2 separate regions of the Homo sapiens genome follow, and region 1 is linked to region 2. A link means that fine-mapping ties the variant in region 2 to the expression of a gene that starts in the linked region. Tissue or cell type: whole blood. Region 2 holds a variant in brackets; the other region holds the start of a gene. Each region is shown on its reference strand, or each on the opposite one. Region 1 holds the start of TMT1B (thiol methyltransferase 1B). Region 2 overlaps SCML4 (Scm polycomb group protein like 4).

Region 1 (11,109 bases), not on the chromosome of region 2:
GTCATGGTTCACTGTAACCCTGAACTTGCAGGCTCAAGCAATCCCCTTGCCTCTGCCTCCTAAGTAGCTGGGGCTACAGGCGCATGCCACCACACCCGGCTAATTGGCTAATTTTTTTATTTTTTGTAGAGAAAAACAACAGCCTATGTTGCCCAAGCTGGTCTCAAACTCCTGGGCTCAAGCAGTCATTTCCTCTCGGCCTCCCAAAGTACTTGGATTACAGGCACGAGCCACCACGCCCGCCCAAAGTCATAATTCTTGAGTCATCTGCTCGTGTTATCTTGGTTTCCTCACCTTCCATTCACTCTTTCTCCCACTCCAATCCATCACTAATAAAAATTTCTTGGGCTTGGCACAGTAGCTCACGCCTGTAATCCCAGCACTTTGGGAGACCAAGACAGGAGGATGGCTTGAGGCCAGGAGTTCAAGATCAGCCTGGGCAACCCTGAGAGATACCCTGTCTCTACAAAAATTTTTAAAAGTTAGTAGGCATGGTGGTATGCACCTATAGTCCTAGCTACTCAAGAGGCTGAAGCAGGAAGGGCAGCACAACCCCAGGAGTTTGAGGCTGCAGTGAGTCAGAATGGTGCACTCCAGCCTAGGCAACAGAGCAAGATCCTGCCAAAAAAAAAAGACTTTGACATAGATTTGTAAAATGGAGTTTTAGCTAAAGTGACATGTGGTGTCAAGAGGGTCAGTTTATTATTAACCTGAAATATATTAGAGCATATTCATATTTTGAAAGATCCATGGAAAGGCAGAGATTAATGATTTAGGAGAAAGAAAGATAAAATGAAGACAAGAATTCATAGCAGCATTGTTTATAGTACCCCAAAAGTGGAAACAACCCAAATGTCTATCAACTGTTGAATAAATAAACAAAATGTGGCATATCTGTACAATGCAATGCTACTTGGACGTAAAAGGAATGAAGTATTGATACATGCTACAACATGTGTAAACTTTGGAAGCATTATGCTGTGTGAAAAGCCAGTCACATAGGCCACATGTAGTATGATTCCAATTACATGAAATGTCAAGAATAAGTAAATCCATACAGACATAAGTAGAGTAGTGATTGCCTACGGAAAGGAAATTGATGGTACTGGGGTTGGGATGGGGATGGGGGAAATGGGAGTAAGTGGTAAAAGCACAAGTTTCTTTTGGGGTAACGAAAATGTTCTAAAATTGATTGTGGTGGCTGGTTGCACAACTCTGAATATACAGTCACATGTTAAGTCATATGTTGCTTAACAACAGGAATAAGTTCCGAGAAATGCATCGTTAGGTGATTTTACCATTACGGGAACATCATCATAGAGTGTCCTTACACAAGCTTGGATGGTGTAGCCTACTATACAGCTAGGCTATATGGCGTAACCTATTGCTCCTAGGCTGCAAGCCTGTACAGCATGTTACTGTACTCAATACTATAGGCAATTGTAACACCATGTTAAGTATTTATGTATCTAAACGTGGAAAAGGTGTGGTAAAAAATACAGTATAAAAGATTTAAAAACGGCATACCTATATAGGGCACATATCATGAATGGACTTTGCAGGACAAGAAGTTGCTCTGGGTGAGTCAGTGAGTGACTACACTAAATTTATTTACATTTTTTTTTTCTTTTCTTCAATAATAAACTAGCCTTAGCTTACTGCAACTTTTTTACTTTATAAACTTTTTAATTTTTTTAACTTTGACTCTTGTAATAACACTTAGCTTAAAACATAAATATTCTACAGCTGTACAAAAATATTTTATTTCTTTATATCCTTATTCTATAAGCTTTTTCTATTTTTTAAATTTTTTTAACTTTTTTGTTAAAAGCTAAGACACAAAGACACACATTAGCCTAGGTCTACACAAGGTCAGGATCATCAAGACATCACTACAGGACAGGGATTTTTCAGCTACATAATAATCTTATGGTACCTCCATCATATATGTGCTCTGTCATTGAGCTAAATGTGTTATGCAGCACATGGCTGTACAGTTGACCCTTGAACAACTCAGGACCTAGGGGACTGATACCCCTCACAATTGAAAATCTGTGTATCTGCAGGGTGGGGAACACCACACATTGGGGCCTGTCGTGGGGTGGGGTGGGGGGAAGGATAGCATTAGGAGATATACCTAATGTAAATGACCAGCTAATGGGTGCAGCACACCAACATGGTACATGTATACATATGTAACAAACCTGCACGTTGTGCACATGTACCCTAGAACTTAAAGTGTAATTAAAAAAAGAAAATTTAAAAAAATATATATGTGTGTCTGGCCAGGCATGGTGGCTCACGCCTGCAATCCCAGCACTTTCAGAGGCCGAGGAGGGTGGATCACGAGGTCAGGAGATCGAGACCATCCTCACTAACTCGGTGAAAACCCATCTCTACTAAAAATACAAAAAAAAATTAGCCGGGCGTGGTGGCGGGCGCCTGTAGTTCCAGCTACTCGGGAGGCTGAGACAGGAGAATGGCATGAACCCGGGAGGCAGAGCTTGCAGTGAGCAGAGATCATGCCACTGCACTCCAGCCTGGGTGACAGAGCAAGACTCCGTCTCAAAAAAAAGAAAAATTAGCTGGGCATGTTGGCATATACCTGTGGTGACCACTACTCAGGAGGCTAAGGTGGGAGGATTGCTTGAGCCTGAGAGGTTGAGGCTGCAGTGAGCTGTGATCGCACACTACACTCCAGCCTGAGTGACAGAGCAAGGCTATCTCAAAAATAAAAAATAAAATGAAAATTTCTAGAAAAGGAAATACAGAGGCTCTTAATTATAAGAAACAAAAATTCAACCTCACGCAGAAAAGAGTAAGTAAGCCGGGCACGGCAGCTCATACCTGTAATCCCAGCACTTTGGGAGGCCGAGGCTGGTGGATCACCTGAGGTCAGGAGTTCGAGACCAGCCTGGCCAACATGGTAAAACCCTGTCTCTACTAAAAATACAAAAATTAGCCAAGTGTGGTGGCATGCGCCTGTAATCCCAGCTACTCGGGAGGCTGAGGAGGGAGAATCGCTTGAATCCGGGAGTCGGAGGTTGCAGCAAGCCGAGATAGTGCCACTGCACTTCAGCCTGGGCGACAGAGTGAGACTCTGTCTCAGGAAAAAAAAAAAAAAAAAAGGAAAAGAAAAAGAAAAGAGCAAATAAAAAGCACAGGATAATACTACTTTGCCTCTTTCTGTGTCCATGGAGCAGGCCCAGGAGCAATTACTCCCCAGTGATAATCACATCCAGCATTCAGATCTTGGTTTTTAAATACCATCCTCCTCACAAAAGACCAGTGCTTCTTTGAGAAATAACTAAGTTCGGGGCTGGAGCAGGGGAAATACAAGATGAGCCTGGAACATCTTCTTGTAGCAGAAAGTAAGAAAATGCTCAAAGAGTGATGGAGTTGTGTCAAAAGGAGACAGGAGCCAGCTTGCAGGTGCTCCCCCAGCCAAATCTAGGGCAATTTGAACATCAAAATACACACCCAGGTATTCACCCAAGAGAAATAAAAGCATACGTCCACACAAACCCATGTACACAAACAGTTCATAGTAGCTTTATTTCTAACAGTCAGAAATTGGAAACAACCCAAACGTTTATCAACAAGTGAATGGATAAAAATATATGTGGTATATCCATACAATGGAATACTACTCAGAAATGGAAATGAACTGCGGATGCATGTACAACATGGATGACTCTCCAAATAAACATGCTGAATGAAATAAGCCAGATGCTGAAATCCCATACATTATAGGATTCCATTTACACAAAATTCCAGAAAATGCAAACTATTTGGGAGGCCAAGGTAGGCGGATCACCCGAGGTCAGGAGTTTGAGACCAGCCTGGTCAATATGGTGAAACACCGTCTCTACTAAAAATACAAAAATTAGCCGGGCATGGTGGTGCATGCTTGTAATCCCAGCTACTCAGGAGGCTGAGGCAGGAGAATCACTTGAACCTGGGAGGTGGAGGTTGCAATGAGCCAAGATCAAACAACTGCACTCCAGCCTGGGCCACAGAGTGAGACTCTGCCTGAGAAGAGAAGAGAAGAGAAATTAATCTATACTGACAGAGAGCAGATCAGCGGTTACCTGAAGATGGGGATGAAAGAGGGGCGAATGGATTACAAAGAAACACAAGGAAACTGATATAGTTTGGATGTTTGTCCCCTCCAAATCTCATGTTGAAATGTAATCCTCAATGTCAGAGGTGGGGCCTGGTGGGATGTGTTTGGCTCCTGAGGTCCCAACCCCTCATCAGTGGCTCAGTGCCAACCCCTTGGTGATGAGTGAGTTCTCGCTCTGGCAGTTCACGCAAGGTCTCTCTTGCTCCCTCTCTTGCCATGTGATACACTGCTCCCCTTCGTCTTCCACCATGATTGTAAGCTCCCTGAGACCCTCACCAGAGGCCAAGCAGATACTGGTGCCATGCTTCCTGTGCAGTCTGCAGAACTATGAACCAATTAAACTTTTTTTCTTTATAAATCAACCAGCCTTAGGTATTTCTTAACAGCAATGCAAAAGCCTAACACATAGACATGTTCATTATCTCGACTGTGGTAATGGTTTCCCAGGTATATACTGTGTCAAAAATAATCTATATACTGTAAATATGTAAACCTTCTTATATATATTATACCTCAAAGAAACTGTAAATAAATAAATAGGGTATTAGGTTACAAATCAGTGAATAAAATAGGAATCTATGCATCAATAATAATATGAACACATAAAAGACACATAAAACCAAATATTGCTGGTGGACGTGTAAATGGGTACAATCACTTTGGAAACCCATTTGCTATTATCTACTAAATCCAATACATTGTTAAGAAGGGGGGGAAGCAAGGTATACAAGAGTGTGTACAATATACTACTATTTGTAAAAGAAAAGGGAATATGTATATGTATATATGTACATGGATCTAAACACGTGGTGTGTGTGTTCCCTGCTCGTTCACAGGTCATCTCTGGAAGGATTCACAAGAAATTGGCAATATGGCATTTAGTGCCTCCAGAGAGGAGATCTGAGTGGTTGGGTCACAGGAGTAGAAGAGAGAATTTTCCCTGTAATCTCTTTAGTATCTTTTTAATTTTGTACTAAGTGAATGTACTGCCTCTTCCAAAAAAAGTTGTTTAATAATGTTTTGTAAAAAGAATTCTTCTCAGCCAGGCGCAGTGGCTCCCAACTGTAATCCCAGCACTTTGGGAAGTCGAGGTGGGTGGATCACCTGAGCCCAGGAGTTCAAGACCAACCTGGGCAACAGGGTGAAACCCTGTCTCTACAAATTACAGAAAAAAAAAAATTGCTGGGCATGGTGGTATGCACTTGTAGTCCCAGAAAATCAGGAGGCTGGTGTAAGAGGATCACTTGAGCCTAGGGACATTGAGGTTGCAGTGAGCCCAGACTGCTGCCACTGCACCCCAGCCTGGGCAGCAGAGACCCTGTCTCAAAAAAAGGAAAGAAGGAAAGAAGGGAGGAAGGGAGGGAGGGAGGGAAGGATCTCTAAAAAGTGGCTATTCTCTGACCTCACTTCCCCCTATTTGTCCAACTTACCCCATTCCCCACAGAACTAAACTTCTCACCCTTTCCAGGAGAGGGCATGCTGTCTCTGTCCTGTACACCTACTTTTTCCTCTGCCAAGAGCACCCTTCCCTTCCTATGGCCCCTCTGAAGTGCCTGACCTGAGGACGAAATGAGGCCAGGATATGTCCCATGAGTCAACTCTGTCCCCAGCATTCACCACTACCAACCCACCCCCAACGCCCTGCCAGCCCCCGACACTCCCCCGCCATGAGTCTGTCATCTGAAACATATCCCCTTACCCCTTCCCACTCCCTCTGAGATGACTCAGCAGCCCCTGCCCCCCTTCAGCTGGGCACAGTGCCCCAGAACTCAGGAACATGGGTACCACCTGTCCCTCCGCCCACATAAAAGTCATTGAAGAGCTTGTGGGGCTGTGGGACCTGCGCCCTCTGGAGGAATTCCATACACCCACTCAACTCTGGCAAATAGGAAATTGTCAAGTAGGAGACAAGGAGCAAAGTCCTATCACAGCGGGAGGGGACGCCAGCGCCTGCAGAGGCTGAGCAGGGAAAAAGCCAGTGCCCCAGCGGAAGCACAGCTCAGAGCTGGTCTGCCATGGACATCCTGGTCCCACTCCTGCAGCTGCTGGTGCTGCTTCTTACCCTGCCCCTGCACCTCATGGCTCTGCTGGGCTGCTGGCAGCCCCTGTGCAAAAGCTACTTCCCCTACCTGATGGCCGTGCTGACTCCCAAGAGCAACCGCAAGATGGAGAGCAAGAAACGGGAGCTCTTCAGCCAGATAAAGGGGCTTACAGGAGCCTCCGGGAAAGTGGCCCTACTGGAGCTGGGCTGCGGAACCGGAGCCAACTTTCAGTTCTACCCACCGGGCTGCAGGGTCACCTGCCTAGACCCAAATCCCCACTTTGAGAAGTTCCTGACAAAGAGCATGGCTGAGAACAGGCACCTCCAATATGAGCGGTTTGTGGTGGCTCCTGGAGAGGACATGAGACAGCTGGCTGATGGCTCCATGGATGTGGTGGTCTGCACTCTGGTGCTGTGCTCTGTGCAGAGCCCAAGGAAGGTCCTGCAGGAGGTCCGGAGAGTACTGAGACCGGTAAGCAGGGTGGGAAGGGGATGGGTGTGGGGCAGGCAAACGCAGCATCAGCCGCCCCAGGGTTCGGCCCCCAGAATGGGGCGTCTGAGGTAGTAAGTAGCACATTAGACACCCCATCCACCTCTACCTGCTGGTGAATAGGAGACATGACCAGTGCCATGACGGGGCACAATTGGGTGCTGTGGAAGCAACAGGAGGATCACCTACCACCATGGGACAGGGAGGGGAGTGGGGAGGACACCTAAGGAACTGAGGTTTAAATCGAGATCTGTGCTTGGGAGGCTGAAGCAGAAGGATGACTTGAGCCCAGGAGTTCAAGACCAGCCAAGGCAACATAGTGAGATGCCGTCTCTACAAAAAAAAAAAAAAAAAAAAATACAAAAGCTAGCCAGGCGTGGTGGCACATGCCTATAGTCCTAGCTACTCAGGAAGCTGAGGTGGGAGGATCACTTGAGCCCGAGTTCAAAGTTACAGTGAACTATGATCGCACCACTGCACTCCAGCCTGGGCCACAGAGTGAGACCCTGTATCAAAAAAAATAAATAAATAAATAAAAAGAGAGAGAGAGAGAGAGATCTGAGGGATTAAGCAGAGTGTGGACGGGGTGGGGAAAATAAAAGAGTGTTCTAGGTAAAGATAGTAGGGGAAGTAGAGTAGAATCCATCAGACTGTGGAGAGAACGTTCAGAATAGTTTCCAGGTTTCTAGCATGAGCAACTGAGGGGAGAGCTGATGAAAAGTGCCATTTGCTGAGATGGAAGAAAGCTGTTTTGGACTTACTAGGTTTGAGATCACCTAGGGAGAGTATAGTGAGGCGAGGAGCTTGAGGAACCCCAGCTTCAGTCAAGAGTTGGGCCTGAGGTTTCCCTGGGATGTTCACAGCGATGTCCAGGAAGCAGCTTGTGCATGCATCTGGGTTTTGTGAGAGAGGTTGTGCGTGTATCTCAGAATACAATAAGCCCAGCTGGGCGAGGTGGCTCACGCCTGTAATCCAGCACTTTGGGAGGCAAGGCAGGTGGATCTCTTGAGGCCAGGAGTTTGAAACCAGACTGGCCAACATGGTGAAACCCTGTCTCTACTGAAAAATACAAAAAGTAGCCGGGCGTGGTGGCTCATGCCTGTAATCCCAGCTACTTGGGAGGCTGAGGCAGGAGAATCGCTTGAACCTGAGAGGTGGAGGTTGCAGTGCGCCGAGATCACGCCATTGCACTCCAGCCTGAGCAACAGACTGAGACTCTGTCTCAAAAAATAATAATAATAATAATAATACAATGAGCCCTCCACTCCTGTTTCTCAGTTTCCCCTTCTGCATGCCCTCGGTTATTCTGGTCAGGCTTTAAAGATCTCCCACCAGCCACTCCTTTCAGTTATGAGGTTCTTCACATGCACTTTGAAGGCGGTAGCAGGGGATGCAGAAAAGGTCAGGGGCACGACAGTTTGCTCCATGAACTCTCAGACCAGCAGCTCCCATTTCACCAAGAAGTTTGACTGTCTTGATCAGCGCGATAGGGAGCAGGGTCAGAATGGAGCCAAGTGACACTAACTCTCTCATCCCTCCCAGGGAGGTGTGCTCTTTTTCTGGGAGCATGTGGCAGAACCATATGGAAGCTGGGCCTTCATGTGGCAGCAAGTTTTCGAGCCCACCTGGAAACACATTGGGGATGGCTGCTGCCTCACCAGAGAGACCTGGAAGGATCTTGAGAACGCCCAGTTCTCCGAAATCCAAATGGAACGACAGCCCCCTCCCTTGAAGTGGCTACCTGTTGGGCCCCACATCATGGGAAAGGCTGTCAAATAATCTTTCCCAAGCTCCAAGGCACTCATTTGCTCCTTCCCCAGCCTCCAATTAGAACAAGCCACCCACCAGCCTATCTATCTTCCACTGAGAGGGACCTAGCAGAATGAGAGAAGACATTCATGTACCACCTACTAGTCCCTCTCTCCCCAACCTCTGCCAGGGCAATCTCTAACTTCAATCCCGCCTTCGACAGTGAAAAAGCTCTACTTCTACGCTGACCCAGGGAGGAAACACTAGGACCCTGTTGTATCCTCAACTGCAAGTTTCTGGACTAGTCTCCCAACGTTTGCCTCCCAATGTTGTCCCTTTCCTTCGTTCCCATGGTAAAGCTCCTCTCGCTTTCCTCCTGAGGCTACACCCATGCGTCTCTAGGAACTGGTCACAAAAGTCATGGTGCCTGCATCCCTGCCAAGCCCCCCTGACCCTCTCTCCCCACTACCACCTTCTTCCTGAGCTGGGGGCACCAGGGAGAATCAGAGATGCTGGGGATGCCAGAGCAAGACTCAAAGAGGCAGAGGTTTTGTTCTCAAATATTTTTTAATAAATAGACGAAACCACGAAACCACTAGACTGATGGCAGCAAACTAAGGTCAGATGAGAGGGGAAACTAGAGAAGGAGCAGCCTGAGTCAGTGACACAACCTCCTCCCCGACCCTCTAGGTTAAGGCACTTCCGGGGAGGCAGGTCCTTGGGGTCCTGTTACACAGGGTGAATGGGAGAGGAAGGGATTAGGATCCCTTCTCCCCACCTTTGCATCAGGACACCCCTGCCCTTCTCACCCTACCCCATGGCCCTGTCCCTGATTTACCCACTCTCATCTCACAGCACTCTAAGGGGAAGTTGGGTGGGAGGAGTTCTTGTGGGTGGGAGAGGTCTGTGCCCCTGAGGAAGCCGATCCTGCCAAATCTTGATGCGACACCAGCAGCCCACTCTACCCTCTTCATCCCAAGGAGCCATCTCTGGGGAAGGGATGGAGGGCAGCCACAGGCCAGGCTGGGACATGGGAACCTAGGCGGTGCCTGGCCCTGGATGCCCATCGGGGCCCAGCTCGGGATGCCCGTCAGCAGCCAGGATGGGGTGTGCATCCGGGCCCTCCCGCCGGGGGCTGCCCCAGTTGTTCCTCAGGATGGTGCCCGTCTTCTCCTCCTTGAACTGCTGTCGGTCTTCCCGAGGAATCTTCACCGCATGGTACTGGGGCACGGTGGCCTCGGGGTGCTTCGCCCGTTTGAAGAATCCCATCTATAAGGACACCAGGCCAGACCATGAGGAGCCTGAAGAGCTGCGGTCCCTGGAGCAGATGCCTAGCGCGGCACAGCTCCTCACCCTCACCATCCCTGCTGCGGCAGAAAGGAAATAGGCTGAATAGCATCTGGTGTGGTGGGCAGCACCCACGGTGCTCCCATCAGTGCTGTGTCCCCAGGTTCTCATTCACAGCAAGAGAGAGACCAGAAGGGCGTCCAAGAGGCAGGACCAAGGGTATCTCCCTTGGCCCCTGAAAGAGGGCCTTGAGGGTGGAGCATCAGGACCGGACTCAAGATTTGTACCCCCTCTAGCTTCTTAAGAGACCCAATAGTGTCCCCCAGAACACAAACAAGACCTGAGGAAGAAAATGGCTTCCTAGTCCCCTGCATCTCTGGAATGATACCTCTCAAGCCTCATAAACATGCACCCCGTGTACTTGTACCTTGGGCGGCACGCCCCTTACAGCAATACCCTCTTGTCCATCAATACAGTAGTCTAGCCCCACCCTAAATGAGGACCATGCTGGCCCTTACACACCAGGGTGGGAATGTGCCCCTGCACACTCACACTCAGAGGCCCAGGACTCCTACATGCTCAGACTGCATGGCATCTCCTTACACATTCATCTCCTTGCACACTCATGCCCATAGAAAAAAGCATGCATGCGACCTCCCCACACTCCCACATGCTCACACCCCATGAGCCCACCAACCCTTTGTGCACGCCTCAGGCTGTGTAGACTTACCCTTATATCTGCACCCTTCTAATTACCTCTCACCTCACATCACTCTCATGCAATCTCATTTTTCACCCTGAACATTCCTGATCCCCTGAATGCTGGGAATTCTCCTTATATTCACACACATACATACCCACACACACTAGACACATGCACACACACAACAGTTACCCCACAGTCCCTGGACCCCCAACTTCCATGGCTGAAGGCTGCACAGCCAGACAGGCCCGGTGATAGTTGGTGGGAAAAGATGAGCTCTGGCTGCTCCGATGGAAGAAGCCACACTAGGATGTCGAGGGAGAAGCAGGGCAGAGGAAGCAGAGGATGGAAAGATTGAGGAAGGACAGGATCCCCTATCTCTGCTCTGTCTTCCTTCCATGGGAGCAGGGAGCAAGCATCCTGGGACCAGTTTCACAGAGGCATCAATCTCCCCTAAGACTGGGAAGGTTCCCAACAGCTTGGATGCCACTCCAGAGCCTGGTCTACTGATGATTCACACTTGCCAAAGGGTGGCTCAGTCTCTGATTGGTCCCAAAGAGCAGGCACAGGCAGGGGCAGTTCTCCAGAGCCCCAAGGACATGTGTGGTTCTGAACATAGCCCCCGATGTGGCAGATGGCTCAGCATATGACCCCGGTGATGTATGTGATTCCGTGTACTGACGTGTGCATGTGCATACTTTTACATTGAGCCC
Region 2 (11,109 bases):
TTATCAGAAGGGAAAATAGGCTTCGGAGGGCATCAAGCAATACCTTCTACCCAGGCAAAGGATGTGCTGGTGGTTCCAAAGTCTGCCCAGGTGGACAACTGTCAAGACAAATCAACCAAGCCCCAGATGTGGCTCTGTAAAGTGGCTCCTGGGTGGCCGCGAGTGAACAGCACGTTCAGATGCACACACTGTGGTGGCTTCCAGAATTGATGAAATGGATCTGTTCAAACCCGATTGAAACTGCATTTTCCGCACTTTTCTATAGAGGGGTTCTGATACATCATAGCTAAGCGTAAAAGTGACAGATGCATGGATGGCCCTCATCATTCGGTGGCAGGAAGGAAAAGGACCTTCACAAGCACCCAGCCCAGCATTTCCCCAAATGTTAAATGCTTTCCACTGGCGGGACAGGGAACCACATGGGTATATTCATTTCCTAGGATTGCAGAAACTAACAAACCGGGTGGTTTAAAACGACAGAAATTTATTCTGCCATAGTTCTGGAGCCTACCAGTCTGAAATCAAGGTGTCCACAGGGCCAGGCTCCCTCTCAGGACTCTAGGGGAGAATCCCTCCTGGCCTCTTTCTAGCATCCCCTGGTGGCCAACAATCTTTGGAGTTCCTTGGCTGGAGACAGCGCTCCAATCTCTGCCTCCACTGTGGTGTTTTCTCTGTGTGTCACGATCTGTGTCCAAATTTCCTTCTTCTTCTAAGGACACCAGTCATGGGATTAGAGCCCTAATTCAGTATGACTTCCCTTTCACTTGATTACATCTGCAAAGATCCTATTTCCAAATAAGATCCCATTTCCAAAAAGGGTTCCAGATACCCGAGAATTTGAACATACACGATTCAGCCTACGACAACCAGTAAATGTTTTTTTATTGTCATGTATTTCAATGTACATCCACGACATATAATTAGCACATCAAACAAAATGATTTCACTGATACAGTATGATTGCTTAAGCTGACTAATGGCTAAGATTAAAAGACATGAGTTAATGTAAAGGAATATCTTGAGTAGACAGTTCTATAAGTGTTACTCAGACACAGTAGAAATTGTGAAGGTGGTAAATTAATATTTGGAATGCATTGAGCTAGCCCCAACCTATCTCTTCAGGCAGGGTGTTGTCTAGAAAAGAAACTATGGTAGATAACTGAGTCTTTTATTTGAAAGCTTCCCCAAAGAGATTTTACAATCTCCTTTAGAGTGAGGCCATTGTGCTATGAATCTCATTGCCTAAAAGTTCCTCCTTACATCTAGCCTCAATTCTTCTTGCTTCAGTTAAAACACATGACTGCTGGACATGTACCCTTTACACTATCCAACATGTTAGGTCACCTCAACATCCAACATGAGGCAGATGAATTCTAGGTATGCAGAACTACTAGGAGCTTAAGAATTTAATTGAACTGTGACATATGTTTCTTACCTAAATCCAATATTTAAAGTCAGTAAAAAGAAAGGACCAAGTCTGTATCTGGAGAGGGAACCCCCACTTTTCAAGCGCTTTTGTGGCTGACTGGTGAGCAAACACCAGATGGGGCCAGCCGACCTGTTGGAGGATCTAACTCCTGCACACAGAGTCCCGGCAGACCGTAGGGCTCACAGGCGAAGGCACTCATGGTCGAAATTTCCTCCTGTGTCCATACAAAATCGTTTTCCATCTGAAAGAAGCTGTCTTGTCACCCTGGCACTGCTCATCAACAAGAGGCTCCAACCCAGCCTGTGTGAGGCCATTTAATTGCAGTGGAGAATGCCAGCTTAACAAAGCAAGGTAAATGAGTGGCTTTTTACTCACTTCTGTAACCCTCTGCATCCAGCCAAGAGACTAATGTTGCCATTTAAGAATCATTAAATCTTTTCCTCCAGAAAAAAAGAATGATCTGCCTTTTGCACAGTCACGAGAGCATGCTTAAATAGAAAGGAAAACACACACGTGGCCCCATCAAAGAAATCTGCCACATTTTCAAGGTTTGGCGTCCTGGGAGCTTTCAGGACAGACTGATGGTCCTTTTTCACCATCGCTAAACCTGCTTGTGGACTATGGTTCCCTCCAGCCACTGTGTATAAAGCCTGCCTATTAGTGAGGCCAAAGAACACTCTAGAAGCATGTAAACCCACTCAAGCCTCAAGGCATACCTGTTTGCATATGAACCTGAACTGTGCCTAAGCCTTCCGGTTTAGGGATCAAAGCTTCAGGGTTCTGAGTCCAGAGTGTGTGGATTCCTCCCTTGCTCCCTGATCCTTGCTGAAGCCTGGGGTGGAGATAGGGTTAGGTAATGCCCCTGCATCCATGGCTTCCAGGACACCCAGGTGCAGCCCATTTCTGCTACAGTCCTGGAGGGTCAGGTGTGAGCCCCTGAAATGTAGAGAACCTCCAAAGAGAGAAGCAGAAAGAGGAAGAGGTGCAGGAGAAAGCCACGAGCCAGAGAGAGAAAGAGAAAGTCCCAAAACAGAGCGGCAGGGAGGGGAAAACGGACCTTATGTATAAAACTATAGATGCTCCTGACCAAGTGTCAGCTCTCCTCACTTAGGACACAAGGCTTAACTGCTTACAGCCCAGTGGGCTCGGACTATTGATTTTATTTTTAAAAACTAAACTGGCATTTTACCTGGATTCACTAACCAAATGAAGTCCTGAAACACAACAATTCCACTATGCAAAATTATTCTCACATAATACCTATTAAGGCAATAAGAACCACAACATCTAGTCTTAGACACTATTTGTCATCTCTAAACAGTTCTGCCTGTTTGTCTTTCTCTCTCTCTCTCACCCCCCACTTCCCGCATCAGTCTTCCCAGTTGAGGGAGCAGCTGCAGAGTGAGCCCTTTCCACAATCAGCACGACCACCTTCCTCCAGACTGGGAGCCCTGGCCTTGCTCAGGATTGATTGCCTGACCCCTTTGCCGGTCTGCCCAGCCCTGCCGACCCCCACACCCTGCCCAGGCAATGGTCAGTGTCCTGTGGCCTCCGTGTGTGAACAGTTTGGTTCGGCTTGCTGACAGAGATGGCAACATCAGAGATTCCTAGCCCTGAAACCCAGATTAGAAAAGGCAGGAGTGCAGTTCGCAGATTTGTAGAGCTGTGGAGCAGCTACCCCTCTTTGCTTAGCCAGGTGCCATCACCTAGATAGTACAGGAAAAGGAGACCTGCGAGGAGAGGGGCAGGAGGGAGAAGGCGCAGGAAGCAGTAGCAGGTGCTCGTGCCAGCTGCACCTCTTTTACTCAGAGCCCAGACACAGGTGCTTCGGTGCCTACCTTGGTGGTTGTGTCTCTGCCACCCGGCAGCCTCTCCCACTGTCCTCTGGGGGACCGCCGGTTTCCAGCACGTGCTTGGTGCTGTGGGATGCAGAGGGGCCTTCTGCTGTGAATCTCTAACGGACTTCCTGGTGACCAAAACCTGAAGGTTTCCTCCCCTGCATGCAGCCTTTCACTGAGGCTCCTGTGGAGGTTTGCAGATTTTCTTTTCTCAAACTCAGTCCCGCCCCTTGTTCTTGCAGATAAGGGAGTTTTCCCTTAGGGCCCTCTGTGGCCTCCTGGCCCAGCCTTTCTGGTTCAAAGGGCACAGGGCCATACTACCTATGAGGCTGAGCATTTCATTTGCTTCAATTAAATTTTCCATTAACTTGGTCTCTGGCCAGTATGGATTTTCTCTCTAAGGTTGTCTCTGCAGTTCAGATCACTCAGCCCTGAGAATCAACCTTATGACTCCCCTCTGGTCCATTTAAGTACATTTCTATTTTTTCTCCCCTAATGAGATGCACAGCAACCGACCATAATTTTAATGCCTGACACCTGAACTTCTTACATCCTCTCAGATGTTTCTGGTTTGCCTAAGACTTTGTTCTAAGCCTAGGGGTTGATTTCCTCCTTTGGAAATTTTGACCAAAGGCATTTTTGACCAAAGTCATCTGTTTGGGATAATGAATGGCCTTTCTGTGCTCTCGGGAGGAGAGCAGGTTCCATACCACCCTCCATATGATCTCGCAGCTTTGCCAAACCTCCACGCCAAGCTTATGAGAATTCCCGAGAGCTGGGGGAGGCGAAGTGGGTGGGACATCCTGTGGTCACGCTGTTTCCTCCACAGCCCCCACAATTTTTTGGTCTTTCATAGAACCTTGGGGAAATTAAAAGTGGTCCTTAATCAGGAAAATGCTGAAGTTCCTGGAATAGAGGACGCCTTGTAAGTTTCCTTTCTAAATGGACATCTCGACTTTGAGAGAGGTTCACAGCACTCCTAGCATTGCTCACTCTGGTGGAGCAAGTTGCTGTGCTGTGAGATGCTCTGCAAAGGGACCCATCTGGCAACAAACCAACAGCTCATTGGAAACTCAGTCCTGCTGACAACCATGTGAAAAAGCTGGAAAAGTGGGTCCTGCCCTAGTTGAGGTTTGAGATGCAGCCTTGTGAGAGATTCAGAACCAGAAGGCCTGTGGCTGCACCTGGTCCCCTGACCCACAGAAGCTGTGAGACCCTAAATGTTATTTTAAGCCCCTAAGTGTTGGGGGTAATTTATGACACAGCAAAAGATAACTATTGTGGACAGAAGAAAGGAAGCCGTTTCATTCCTCTTGATTCTGCATGTCCAGATTGGAAGTTGTCATTATTAACTCAGCAGTAGCTAGGATAGATCTGGTACAGAGTATCTGCCCACTTCTCTGCCAGGGAGTTTATGTTTGTTTGTTGTAGTTTTTTTCAGCAAAGGGTTTGTTGCTTATGAATGAAACACAGAAAGCACCACTATTAGGAGAGAGTTCATGAAGTTCATCTTAGAAGCCTACTGGTTTCCTAAGCTGCTTCAGCTCCTCTTGGCATGGTTTGCCATTCTAACCCTAGTTCTCAAGCATGGACAACAGATAATGGTGTGAGTAGCCTGCAGATAGCAGTACCTTAGGGTCCGCCACAGGGGCTCAGGGTTGTGGTCCAGGGGAATAACCAGAAGGGGTCTCTAATACAACCTGTGCAGGTCCTGGAGGCCTCGAATGGCTGCATCTCACATACCCTGTCCCTTTGTTTCCACCAGTCCTTGTGCTTCCACTGTTCTGAGGTATAATCAGAGAACTTGGTTTCCAACCCCTTGGATCTACTTAGATGCCTGGCCCATCTCCCGGACCTACTCTTCTGTCAGAGGCAGGAGCCTCTTTGGACAGGCTCATCAGAAACAGAACATCTTCTGCAGTGGACACAGACACAACTATTTGATAGAGAGGCTGGGAGACCCCCGGCCATCTGGCCAGCTCTAATGGCTCACGGAGAATCGAGGAGTGGGGGCGCCACATGAGGGACTGTTCGCCTCATGGAACACAGGAGATTTCCAGTAGATTTTGTTATTTGAGGAGTGGGCATAGGGTAGAGGTAGGGGTGTCTTTCAGAGGATTCCTGGGGTCAGCCTTCTAGGAAGAAGGAGTCCATTTGGCCTCTTTTTTTCAGGCTTTTTATCTCCTCCACACCCCCAAACAGTAGAAAGCCTGCAAGGGGTTTACCACCAGCATCATTCTACTCCTCAAGTCTCAGGTGCTGGCATCTTTAATCCACAAAATAAATTGTGATTTAGACAAGAAGAGTGTTCACTTCTTTTGTTTGTTTGTTTGAATACAGTTACTTTCTACCAAAATTTTATCAAAGGGGTCAACGTGACTCAATATTACTCTAGTTCATATTGAAGATACCTTGGGCGATTAAAACAACTTAATTGGAACATTCATTCATTGGTTAATAGTTATGGAGTAAATAACTTCCTCGGTATCTACAGGACATGAGAGAGAACCTGAGCCTTACAATGCAAAGGGATCCAATCAA[C/T]TGCTGGACATAATAGAGAATCCATTTTAAATTCTACGAAATGCAGGCTTTTCTCTGGAGGCACCTTCTTTAAAAAAGAGATTACATTTTTCCCTTTTAGTTCAATATTTTAAAATATGTACAGATATCATAATTTAATGAAAGATATCACTGAAAATATAAAGCTTTTCCTAAATGAATTTACATAGGCACATGGGGAGAATTAGGATGAGGACTCCTACCCTGGAGAACACTCCCTATTCCATGGTGTAAGGGTTCTAGCTTGGCCTCTATGGCCCTAAGTGTCAGGAAAAATATGAAGGCTTTTGTATTTTCTACAAAACTGATGGACACTTTTTAGTTTCTTTTTGTTGTTGTTGTTGTTATTGTTGTGGTTTTTGAGAAGGAATCATGCTCTGTCACCTAGGCTGGAATGCAGTGGCACAATCTCAGCTCACAGCAACCTCCACCTCCTGGGTTCAAGAAATTCTCCTCCCTCAGCCTCCCGAGTAACTGTGATTACAGGCATCCACCACCACACCTGGCTAAGTTTTGTATTTTTAGTAGAGACACGGTTTCACCATGTTGGCCAGGCTGGTTTCAAACTCCTGGCCTCAAGCAGTCCACCCACCTCGGCCTCCCAAAGTGCTGGGATTACAGGCGTGAGCCACCGAGCTCAGCCTCTTTTTCAACCTTTTCATCAAAACCTTCTGCAAGGATTCTTAAGACCAGAGCTTGTCAATAGTTTATTCTCCTTCCAAATGACCTCCTTTCCAATGCTCAGCTTGAGAATGAGACAGCTCATTTGTCCATGTGGCCCTTGGCTGTGACAAACACAGCTCCACAATGTTCCAGTCATGTGGCCTGCACTGGGACACAAGCAGGTGCAAAGGCATCTGCAGGAACGCACCTCTCTTCATTCCTTTCCTTTCTTTCTGTTTTTGAGGGCGGGGGGATTCCAGTTCTGTTTTTTTTTCTTCAAGTTTTTTTTATTGTGGTAAAACACATATCACATAAAGTCATGGCCCGACACAGTGGCTCACTCCTGTAATCCCAGCACTTTGGGAGGCTGAGGCAGGTGAATTACTTGAGCTGAGGAGTTCGAGACCACCCTGACCAACATGGCAAAACTCCATCTCTATTAAAAATACAAAAATTAGCCAGGCATGGTGGCAGGCTCCTGTAATCCCAGCTACTTGGGAGGCTAAGGCAGGAGAATCACTTGAACCCTGGAGGTGGAGGTTGCTGTGAGCCGAGATCACGCCACTGCACTCCAGCCTAGATGATGGAGCAAGACCTTGTCTCAAAAAAAAAAAAAAAAATTATCATCTTTACCATTTCTAAGCATACAGCTCAGTGATATTAAATACATTCAAAATGTTGCATAACCATCATCAGCATCTATCTCCATAACTCGTCTTGTAAAACTGAAACTCTATACCCATTAATCAAGAACTCCCCCTTTATTTCTTTTCTTTTTCTACCCATCATTCCACATATTAATTCAAACACTAGATCAAACTCTGCCACTGTCTGGTGGAGTAGGCTACTTGTGTGGGTTTTGTAGAAATGAGGAAGTTCCCTGGCAGCTGGAATGATGGGCTGTGCCTGCCCCGTGGTTGTCATCCAGCCCCGATGTAGCCAGAACACAAGGACACGGGGAAAACATCCCGTGTGGGAAAGGCAGGAAACCCAGGAGGAGAAGAGAATTGATCTTCCTAGAGTGTAGTTTCCTCCTTGATTTTGCTAAATGAGGGCTGGGGTTTGTTCTGTTCTTTCACATCTTTGCTAGAAGCAACACAGGTGTACCACAAGCCCCTTGTGGACATCTATTGTGTGCAGTCAGCCCTCTGAGCTGAGAAACAGGGATGCACACCCCACGCAGCCAGTGCTGGATAACGGGCCTTACAGACAGCAGAAAAACTTGGAATAAGGAAAAACTTGGAGAGGAAAAGCAAAGGGCCGGGGATGAGAAGACCTGCTCTCGGTTTCCTCCCTGCTGCTATCTTGCTGTGTGTGTGGCTCTAAACAAGTGACCTGGGCCCTGTGCGCCTCGCTGCATTACCAACAGGGGAGCTCAGCACTATCTGCCAACTGACTAAATGGATGGGTCCATGTAATGAAACTCATGCCTCTTGATGAACTCTGTTCCCTTTTAAAAATAAATGATCTTTTGTAAAGATAGACATTCTCCATATATTCTCTGTAATGTTATTCTACTAGATAAATGTGTTGTTGGATAGGAAGCAGGTTTCATTTCTCAATGCTGAGTGTATAGGTTCAACCGTAATGGAACACTGTGAGTGACTATTACTGGGAGGGTGTTCTGGTGCCTGCTCAAAGACCACCAGCCAAGGAAGGAAACAGTAAGCCTCAAGAATAAATGTCCGTTCTCATCTTCCACCCCCTGCCATCTGTATATCAAAGAAGCTACTCAGCAAAAGTAAACAATCTGTCCCCATTATGCTAAACCTTCAAAAGGCAGGAAACCAGCAACTAAATTAGATCTTGCAGAATAGTTCAACTCTCACATTTGTGGTTTCCAAAGATCTCCTACTCTTGGTGAGCAGACAATTTGTTCTGTCGTGTTGCATAGAATTCAAGTCAGTAGGTATTTACTGCGTGTTTGCTGTGTTTCAGGCTCTGCTGGGGACCCCCAGGTCTATCTAGCAGGAAGAAGAGATCTGGATGCAGAGTCCTGCAATATAAAGCAGAATCAAATGCCATTGTGGACGTGGAAATAAGGATCTGGGGAGAACAGAGGGATACCTTCTTCGGATTGGGGAAGGTTTACAGGGCACCAGAGACCATGCTTCAGGTGCTTGCTGGCCATGGGGAGAAATTTGTTTGTTTGTCATCATTCTTTCCTATCTTTCACCCTCTTCCCCAGATATGCAAGCCTTGTCTTTCTCCCCTGGATTTATACAAGTGCCACCTCGATCCAACCACTCTGCCCTTCATGCCCTTCTCTTCCCTTCCAGCCCACAAAACACCTCCACTCAACACTGGATCATCTTCAGGGGCCACACTTATAGCAGAGAAGAACCATCTTAGCACAGACAGACTTCCTGTACTGAAAACTTGGAATAAGTTTCTCTGTGTGAGCAGGACTCTGCCAGCCCACCCACACTCTATCACTCAGGGTGTGGCCCCCGCCCTATCAGCTGCACCAATATCAGCAGCACCAGTATTACTTGGGCACCTGTTAAAAGGCAGACTGTCTTGTGGAATGATAGACAATGCAGGCTTGTAATGGTGAGCCGGGTGGGAGGGAAGAGGAGAATTACATAATGGGTACAATGTACATTATTTGGGTGATGGGTGTCCTAAAAGCCCTACCTTCAGCGCTGTGCAATCTATGCATGTAACAAAATTACATTTGTACCCCAAAAACTTGTACAAATAAAAAATTGAATTTAGCTTAATTAATTTTTTTTAAAAAAAGAAATGCAGGCTTTCAGGCCCCACCCCAGCTTTACTGAACCAAAATCTGAATTTTAGCAACATACTCAGGTGGTTTCTGCACATTAAAGTTTGAGAAGCACTGGCTAAAGCATATTTATACTTGGGTCTTTTTAAATTTTAACACTCAAAGGCAACAACAATTTTCCCCGTGGTCATCTCATGACTTCTGACAGAGCCACCAGTGTTATCAAATCCATCTTTCTGCCTCCATTCTCCTAAAACACCCAGGGAGCTGTGTTACTTCCCCAAACACAAACCACCTTCAGATGTCAGCTAATAGAATTGGAGGGAAATAACTAAGTTCCTGGTCTCAGGCCAAGAACTCTAACTTCCAGGCTGAATTCAGGCAGCAGGGAAGCCTGAAGGCTGATTTTCCCTAAGCACAGGAAAAATATCATTTGAATAGGGAGTTTATAACTTTGGGAGGCCGAAGCGGGCAGATCACCTGAGGTCAGGAGTTCAAGACCAGCCTGGGCAACATGTCAAAATCCCGTCTCTATAAAAATACAAAAATTAGCCAGGTGTGGTGGTGCACACCTGTAATCCCAGCTACTTGGGAGGCTGAGGCTGGAGAATTGCTCGAATCCAGGAGGTGGAGGTCGCAGTGAGCCGAGTTCGTACCACTGCACTCCAGCCTGGGCAACAGAGAGAGAGTCCATCTTGAAAAAAAAAGGATCGAGAGTTTATATTTCAAAAGTCTGAGGAAGAGATGTGGAAGAAGCCCTCCCTCTTCTTCAAGGGAAGAGGTCTTGCTTCTAATACAGCCACTTTGTCTTGGTGCCCATACCTTCACCTCTGGGAGGCCCTTGCTAATGCTTTGAAGGTAACCTGCCCTCCCGCTGTACAGGGCTGTTCTCTGCCACCTCCAGCCCGGAGCTGTCAGCCTGTAAGGGACCAGCGAGAACATCTTGCTCCTACTCCTCCAGGTGGCCAACATTCCCACTAATGACCCTAACAAGTCACACATATTTGTCACCAACAATGGGGAGATCATTATCACCTACCTTCCAAGCAGCCCCTTCAAATTCTGAGTGGCTTTGACATTTCAAAGCTCTTTACAATGTCAACTCCACCTGACTCCCAAGGGAACTATCTTCTGAGAGTTCCATCTGGTTATTTAACTGCTAAGTTCTCTACCTGGGAGAGTGTTCCTTAAATCTATGCTTCTCTAATGTGTCTTCAAAGCACCTGGGGATCTGTTGTTTGAAAGTTTGGCAGGGCCACTGAGATTTTTGGCTTTGGTGGGTGATAACAATGCCCCTGACCAGAGTTTGAGGGACAAGACCTTAGATTTAATTCAATCTACCTTTTACTTATTTAGTCTCAGTTCTGTTCTACAGGACCACAGAGAACAAAGCCACCTGACCTGCTGTCATATACTGGAACATAAAATCACATCTTTCCCAAATCTTCTCTTTTTTTCTACCAAAAACATCCCAGTTCTTTCCATAGTTCCTTAGCTGTCATGGCTTTGCATCTTCTTATCATGTGATTAACTGTCTTCTGGAAATGTTCCAGTGAGTGTTGACAAGCCCTTTAGGTGCATGGCACCAATCCTGGAACTCTTCAACTTGAACAGAACAACCCTGGGGCCAAGCAGAACCAGGCATTGTCCTGATGCAGATAAGCCCATGACCTTACAATCCTGTTCGGGAACAATGTGGTCCTATGGATGTATGGAGCCTCAAACAAAAAAAAACCTCCACCCTTCCCTCATACAAATGCATATGCCTTTCTTGTCACAATGGTGAGAAAATGGATGATAAACTAATTCATCCTCTAACATACTGGTAACTTGACATGTTATTTAAAGAAACTTTGACAAGGCGATCTTAAAGAGACAATGTCTTACTCTAA

The links. PIP is the estimated chance that this variant, and not a neighbour inherited with it, causes the effect.
Region 1: it holds the start of TMT1B, and the variant in region 2 is fine-mapped to the expression of TMT1B in whole blood (TOPMed, PIP 0.98).

What each region holds. Positions count from the first base shown.
Region 1 is chr12:55,675,614-55,686,722 of GRCh38, forward strand. TMT1B (thiol methyltransferase 1B) reads left to right here and starts at 6,123. Exons shown (of 2, transcript NM_152637.3): 1 at 6,123-6,639; 2 at 8,200-8,998. The coding sequence starts at 6,142. The coding sequence ends at 8,436. ITGA7 (integrin subunit alpha 7) reads right to left here. Exons shown (of 25, transcript NM_002206.3): 25 at 8,955-9,675. The coding sequence ends at 9,445. RefSeq lists enhancers at 5,782-6,457, 9,484-9,983.
Region 2 is chr6:107,728,707-107,739,815 of GRCh38, forward strand. All of the region lies in intron 5 of SCML4 (Scm polycomb group protein like 4), which reads right to left. Among named protein-coding and RNA genes, the nearest start is that of SCML4, 90 kb to the right of the region's middle. The variant C/T (reference allele first, on the strand shown) is at 5,809.